Homo sapiens: one gene and its partner. The protein of the gene in region 1 interacts with the protein of each later gene in a pairwise test. Each region holds a gene or a part of one and is shown on either strand. Other genes may lie near its edges.

Region 1 (3,655 bases):
ATGCCACAAAGTTTCTTCCCCGAATCAACTGCTTTTTATTTATTTTCGTTTGTCTTTCTGTTCTTCCCATGCTACACTGACGTATACATAATTAACCACTTTATGATTCTTCTTTCCATCTTTAATTTCCAGGGAAAATATTTAAGATAGTACAAGTCCAGACTGTGAACAGAATATCACCAATTCCATATTAATGAGGTAAAAATTGGAGTCATTCACTCTTTCTTCACCTGACATGATGCTCAACTTCTGTGGAGCCCAGATGCTCAAAATACAGTTCCTACTCCAGTGGAGATACAAGGAAATCCACAACATGTGAACATTTTTGCTTTGTCCTTTGACTCTTGGTTCCCAAGATTTCTGTAAAACTAGAATCAACTAGATTAACTATTTCTCCACACTTTCTCTTTTTTTCTTTTAGTTGTTCAAGTTGGTTTCCCATGTCTTGGAAAACAGGATGGGGTGGCAGCATTTGAAGTGGATGTGATTGTTATGAATTCTGAAGGCAACACCATTCTCCAAACACCTCAAAATGCTATCTTCTTTAAAACATGTCAACAAGGTAAGCACCGATGGTGATTCAAGAGAAGACATGTTGTAAGGGCTTAGGTGTGATTTGGACCAAATATTTATATCTATACACACACACACACACACACACACACACACACACACATGGTTTTTTGGATGATGGCTCTATAACTACAGCAACGGAAGGAGGAGATGATCAGCACAGGATTTAGCAACAGTACTAAGATAGACTTCCTCTGACCTTGACCCCACTTTTAATATTAGGAATAGGAAACGTTTCAAAACACCTTTTCTTCCTCCCTCTCCACTCCTCCAACACAGTTGTTGGGAGTCCCAGTGTATCTCACCCGTGGTCATGAATTTCCCCCTTTCTTGCTCTGTTTGCTCAAGGCAAGGTGGCTCATAATTACCAGCACTTCCCACTTGTCCCAAAGGCAACACTAATATAACCTCTAATGAATATCCACGGAGGACAGACTGCCACCTCATGCCAGTGATCCCTACCAGGTCAAGGCCTCACTCAATACCTCCCCACCACACCCCAGATGCCCATTTAACTATAAAGGCCTGGCTCCTTTCACATCCCTATACAAGCTTTTCTAGCTCAGAATTTAAGCTCTGGAGCATTTCAGTGCTCTAAAGATGTACCCATAAGTCATCTTACCCTCTGAAAGGGGAAAGGCAATACCATTCATTCAATTGCAGTGGGAATTTAACAAGGTACAGTAGATCCATAGGAGGAGATGAAGGCAGAATAAAATTTGCCTTACCTTCTTCCAAGAGCCCCCTACTGTTGGAAATAAGGGAGGCAAAATCTTACTCTGCAGCAGATTTAGTGAAATCCAAGTGATATCGAGGGAATGAGTTGGAAGTACTGGTATTTGATCAATTATGATTAATTGGTGGGCTAGAACAGAAATGAACACTACTGTCTCACACTGGCTGTGATTCACCCAACATGATTTCAAGGGTGTCCATATAAGCTTTGTTTCTCTCTGCTGAAGCTGAGTGCCCAGGCGGGTGCCGAAATGGAGGCTTTTGTAATGAAAGACGCATCTGCGAGTGTCCTGATGGGTTCCACGGACCTCACTGTGAGAAAGGTAAGACATGGAGCCGATTTCCCTTGCTCCCTTCCTAATGAACATGGATGTCGTGCAGGAGCCCCATGTGTATTGTGTATTTTTAACACCTGAAATTATTTTCCTGGTCACAGGGGCAGAAAATTTTGGCACAATGCCATCACTTTCTGTGGCCATTCCTGGCCATCTCCCCCAACTCATCCCGCTTCAGAAATATAGCCACTGTACTTTGGCATAATCTTATGAAAATTTTGAGGTTTTTTTCCTCCTCTTAAGTTGGATTTAAAAAGCTAGTATCACCACTGATCTGAAATTGTTCCAGTTGAAAGTAGCTTGATTCACAACTAAGAGTATATCTAAGTTATGAAGTTATGATAAGGCAAAAAAGTGGATGAATTTGTGTAGTAAGTACATCAATTTCAGGGAAATTAATTTTTAAAAATAAATGAAAAAAGACATAAGCAAGGAAATGAATATTAATCATAAGATGTTTAAATACTAAGAGCTTATCTGACTACAGTAAGCAAAATATTTTTCATCTTCAAGAAATAAGAATATCCTGTGAGAGACAGTTAAAAAATAATTTTAAAATAAGTAAGAAAGAATAATATTTTCTTATTTTTCTTCTTTGCATTTATGTTGGAATTAGAAGATTAAGCAAATGGGGCAAAGTGAAAATATTTAACAGTTTTAAGAAGACCACATCTTAGTCAAAATGATTCTGGGGAAAATTTATTCAAGTATTCAAATGGAACCAATCCAAAAGTCATCTCTAAGAAATTGGCTGAGAAATTGAAAAACAGCCTAATTTATACCACAAAAATAATATTAATATAGCAAACTTGTATCTCTGAAGAGTAATCATTTTAGAGTCAACCACAAAGCTTGAAAATGTAGACCTGTTGTATTATTGACATTTCAAAATGGTCCTGCTCCAAAATACCATTTGGCCTTAATCAGGGTTCTCTCTCCCTATAAGCCCTTTGTACCCCACGATGTATGAATGGTGGACTTTGTGTGACTCCTGGTTTCTGCATCTGCCCACCTGGATTCTATGGAGTGAACTGTGACAAAGGTAACAGTTTCTTTTTAAGAAGAAAGTTATTTTTACTTTTAAAATGTTTGATTAGAATAAGTTACTTTATATGTCCTCACTCTTCATAACAGCTCTGAGAATGTATGGCTTAGGGTAAAGATGGCTGCTATAGTAACTGAAATCCCAATTTTAGTGTAGCATAATAGCAAAAGTTTATTTTCATTCACAGAATGCTCCAGTGCATTTTGCCTGGTCAGTGGGCAGGGCAGCTCTTCTCCATGCAGTGACTCAGGAGCCCAGGCACCATCTATCTGTGGTCCTGCCTAGAGCTTTGGAACTCTCTAGATCCAGCCAATAGGCAGAGAAGGATTGAAGTAAGCACTGCTAAAAATAAATTAATTAATTAAAAAATTTAAAAGCCCTGGCCCAGAATTTACCCACAAAACTTCCACACCTATTCCATAGGTAGGAATTAGCCTCATGGTCCTACCTGGTTTCAGGCAGAAGAAATGTTGCCCCTGGCTGGACAGTGGTCTCCCACTGACATCTCATATTACATAACGGGAGTGCAAATTTTTGTGAACAATTAGCTGGTCTTGCCACATGGAATTTTAGTATGTCCTAAATTGGTTTTGTGGGTGAGCTTCTAAGGCTAAAATTAAACAACCTGCTCTACATTGCCTAACCTAGAAGTTTACTGACTCCCGATTCAATACTCTGCTCACAAATCACATCCCAGAGAGATTAGGTTCTTCCTTCTTAACATTGCAGCAACACAGCCAGATTTTACTCTTAGTAAGTGAATTCAAACTTGGCCCTAAAATTGCTGAACGATTCATACTCTTTACAAGAGACTTGTTTATTTTGCCCAGTTCACATCTTTTAAGTGGAAAAAAATAAAGACTATGCTGTGAAATTTGTATATTTAATGAAGTTATCTTTGTGTTAAAAATGCTAATTGTATGAATAGAGCATTTTTTGTCAATAAACATATGAGTTAAGATAGAAT
Region 2 (3,655 bases), on another chromosome or scaffold:
AACCCTGGAATTCCACCCAGGTCTGGAGGGCTGCTCCAGGCTGATGGGGACCATTTTGACCTGTCAAGCCCAGAGGCACCATGGGTATAGTCTGACAGCAACCTATAGTAACTGCAGCTTTCAGGCTAAATGAATATTCTGCTCTACCCCATGAGAATGCTGGCCCATTAAAGATGATTTTGTTTGCAATTTTAATATGATCTACAAAAAGAACTAAACTTGTAATTAATAGCACCATGAAAACATAGATAATGGTAGAAAATAGGATAATAAAATAAATTTGCTTTCAATTCCGGGCAATGTTTCCTACCACTAACTTGAACAAAGTAAACCATTTTAACTGAATTTGAGAAAAGAACATGTCTTTCTGGAGCAAAAATATTCTTGTAGGGAGAATATAGGCAAATATATTCATTATGAATTTTATATACATATGTGTGTATATATGTATGCATAGATATATAAAACTATTGAGCAGCAGAGGAAAGAATGTAAGACATAGCTCTCTATTGAGAGTGGCTGTTGGGCTGTCAAGCAGTCATGTAGAAGTATTTTTAAAAAGAAAATTGAGGGCACAAGAAAGCATCTAAAGTCTTGGTAAAATGGTCAACTGGGGTTCAGCAATTGAAGGAGAGTACTGAGTATGTACTAATGTACAGTTCACATCAACATCTCAGAAATAAAATAGCTCCAGCTTTGAAGCATCTCCCTTGACTGATTAAAAGAGGAATTCTCATCCCTACAGAAAGAAGAGGTAGTATGATAGTGAAATGCGGACAGATGCTGGTCCTTGGCTGCTCATTTGCTTTGCAGATTCAGTACCCCTGGCATCTTTAAAACATTTTTCTTGTAAATGTGTTTGTTTTACTGGCTGATGCACTGCTAGGAGCAGATGTGGAGACAGGGATTCCACTCCCAGTGAGCACACAGGAGCTGGGCTTTCTCCAAAGCTGGTTGCAAGAGGGTGTTTGTTTTGAGAGGACTCGGCAGTACCAAGGCAGTCTGTTAAAATCCCCATTGACTGATACAGTCATTCTTCCAGATTGAACAAAACACCAGCAGAAGATGTATGTAGTTAAGTCAGACTCTCCGTGGTCCCGGAAATAAGAGAATCTTGCACTTCAAGTTGAGGAAAACTGGCCAACGTGCTTCATGCCTGGGTGCCAGAGTTCCATATTATAGGGTCACATCTGTAACAAAAATTCAGCATAAATTATCTAAATGCTCTCCATGTGCCAGTTCCCTACAAGAAGCTTTCCCCTCTCCATTGCCTTTCATACACACAAACACACACGTGCACACACACACACACACACACACTCACACACACACCATGCAAACTCATCTTTATGCTTCAACACCCAGCACCAGTTCCCCATTTCCAGAGAAGTTTAGCTCTCGACTCCTATAACAGACATTATCTAAACTCATCACTTTGAAACTGTCCACCTCTGATTGCAGCTGCTGCTGGGGCAGAAAGCGCTGCATGGGCTGACTGTTCTAGCACAACAGCCCCACTGCATTTCACTGCTTTTCTGCCTCCAGACTTTCTCTGAAGACTCATCCCAAGTAGGCTCATCCCAAGTAGAGGCACAGCTCAGAGATGAGGGAAAGCTAATGCCCTCCGCAGGCAACCCCAAATCAGTGAGGATGGAGCCAGTGGTTGCCATCCTTCAAGAGAATGATTCTGGGAGGCATCTGTACACTTCTCAGAGGTCCAATGAAGTCAGGCCTCTGTGGCCTGGAGCTGAGACCTTGATAATAATGCGCCCTTCATTTGCTTCTCCTTGTTGGCTGTCTCACTCTCCCTGCCCCCTCACCCCTTCTTCCTGGGATCACCTCCCAAATAAACTACTTGCACCCAAGTCCTTATGTCAGGTTCTGCTTGTGGGGATCCAAACAGCCAGAACACATTAAGCAAAGAGATTGAGAGATCATATATTTTTTAAACAGCAAAGTAATGAAACATAAGCTCTTTGCAAGTGTCAAAGCTAGGTATTAACTGTCTAGGGAACCAAAAGAGTCACTGAACACTTTGAGCATCAATTTCTGTCATCTAAAACATGAAATGTGAACTCAAGGATCCTTTTTAGCTCCCATCCCATGCTATAATTCCATGACAACGCAAGCTATGTGTGTCCCCTTTAGATAATCTGTAGCCACTGAGGGGTGGAAAAATGCAGTGGCTTCTGTCTCATTACACATCGCACATCATTCGAACCTCAAGGGCATAAGACATGAATTTTCCACAATGGAAGCTTCAAACTTTCTGGGTGCTCCTCAAACTTGGCAACTTTCAGTTTTCTGACTCTTAACAGAAAAGGTCAAATTTCCATGTTACTGAGACTTCTAAAGCCATCCAAGTTCTCTAAACTTGCACACTCTTTACCTCAAAATAACCAGATATCTTCATCAATTTCTCCTTCTTCCCTCTAGCAGTACCAGCACAGATCTCTCTTCCTAATCTCAGTCCAAAATTAGCATATATCTGTCCAAATTCCCCAGAGTGCCTCACTCAGTAACTCACACTTAACTGATGCTCAATAAACGCTCATTGAATGACTGAATGAACCCTTCAACAAAAAACACTTAGAATCATCCCAACTTTTGAAACATCAATGGGAAAATTGCCTTGATACTATGGTGGTTTATGAGCTGTTTGTGTGTTTAGTTTCAATAGTGGCTTACAAACCTATTGCTTGTTTGTTTTCAATATACTGCAGAAAATATAAATCTAGTTAAAAGTGAGAAATCCAGATTTTCACAGAAAATTCTAGAATTAGGCCTTGGAGATGTTTTCCTTTCCTTTAAAATTAAAAAAAAAAAAATTAACATTCCAGGCTTACTGTGAAGAAACCTCTTCCCTTCCCAAACCCCCAAATGGAGTCATACCTGTGAGTCTAGATTTTTTGGCTGTGTTCACTGCTCTCATGAACATGTATTCACCGTTAGGGTCGTGCACACTGGATGAATACTTCTGAAAGAAAAAGCCAGAAACATGCTTGGTCATCTTTTCTTCTCCATCTCTTTGTTTTTTGACTGTTTTCTATTCTTTGTTGAAGTGGTATGTGACAAAAACATGATAATGTGACTTAGGTTCCTGGCTTTAGGCTAAGTAGAAAAACAATATGAAAAGGGCTTTACATAAAAAGAGCTTTCTACTGAACTTTCTTCCTCGTTTTTGCCTTTATTGTTTCTTTCCCAGCAGACTTAGACCATGGGCGCTATCTCATTCTCTTCCTTCTTTATGTCTCTTTCCAAATTCCACTCTCCCACAGATATACACTGGCCAATGACCACACTGTGGATATACTTGAGTACTAGCATACTCGCGTAATATGCAGAGTGGTGTCAGTTCTTTGATTGAGAACCTGTAATGCAAGAGACCAAAAAGAATATCCCCCAGCACAGGGAGATTTTTGTTGTTGTCATTGTTGTTTATCTTTCTAAATAGCTCCTCAGTGGTTTTCTTTAAAAGCAAGGAGTCTAATAACCTACCATGTAAAAAAGTTGTCAATTTCCTTCTCAGCTACAATTGACACCTTAGAAGGCTTTCTTGCTGACTGTTTTTAACTTACCAGCTAAGCAAAACTTATAACTAATTGTTTCATCTCTGCCCTGCCTCTCAGGAACCTTGGATTCAAATTCGCAGCCC

Evidence for each region.
Region 2: the proteins of WIF1 (region 1) and ICOS interact in a two-hybrid assay, tested with the Homo sapiens proteins (one large-scale study listed by BioGRID and IntAct).

Annotation. Positions count from the first base shown.
Region 1 is NC_000012.12:65,065,671-65,069,325, reverse strand, and holds part of WIF1 (wnt inhibitory factor 1 precursor), read left to right. Parts: intron 1-421; coding exon 422-562; intron 563-1,535; coding exon 1,536-1,631; intron 1,632-2,589; coding exon 2,590-2,685; intron 2,686-3,655. UniProt on the Homo sapiens protein: Binds to WNT proteins and inhibits their activities. May be involved in mesoderm segmentation.
Region 2 is NC_000002.12:203,957,121-203,960,775, reverse strand, and holds part of ICOS (inducible T-cell costimulator precursor), read right to left. Parts: intron 2,978-3,655; coding exon 2,893-2,977; intron 2,806-2,892; exon of another isoform or gene 2,693-2,805; intron 1,191-2,692; coding exon 1,177-1,190; 3' UTR 1-1,176. UniProt on the Homo sapiens protein: Stimulatory receptor expressed in activated or antigen-experienced T-cells that plays an important role in the immune response.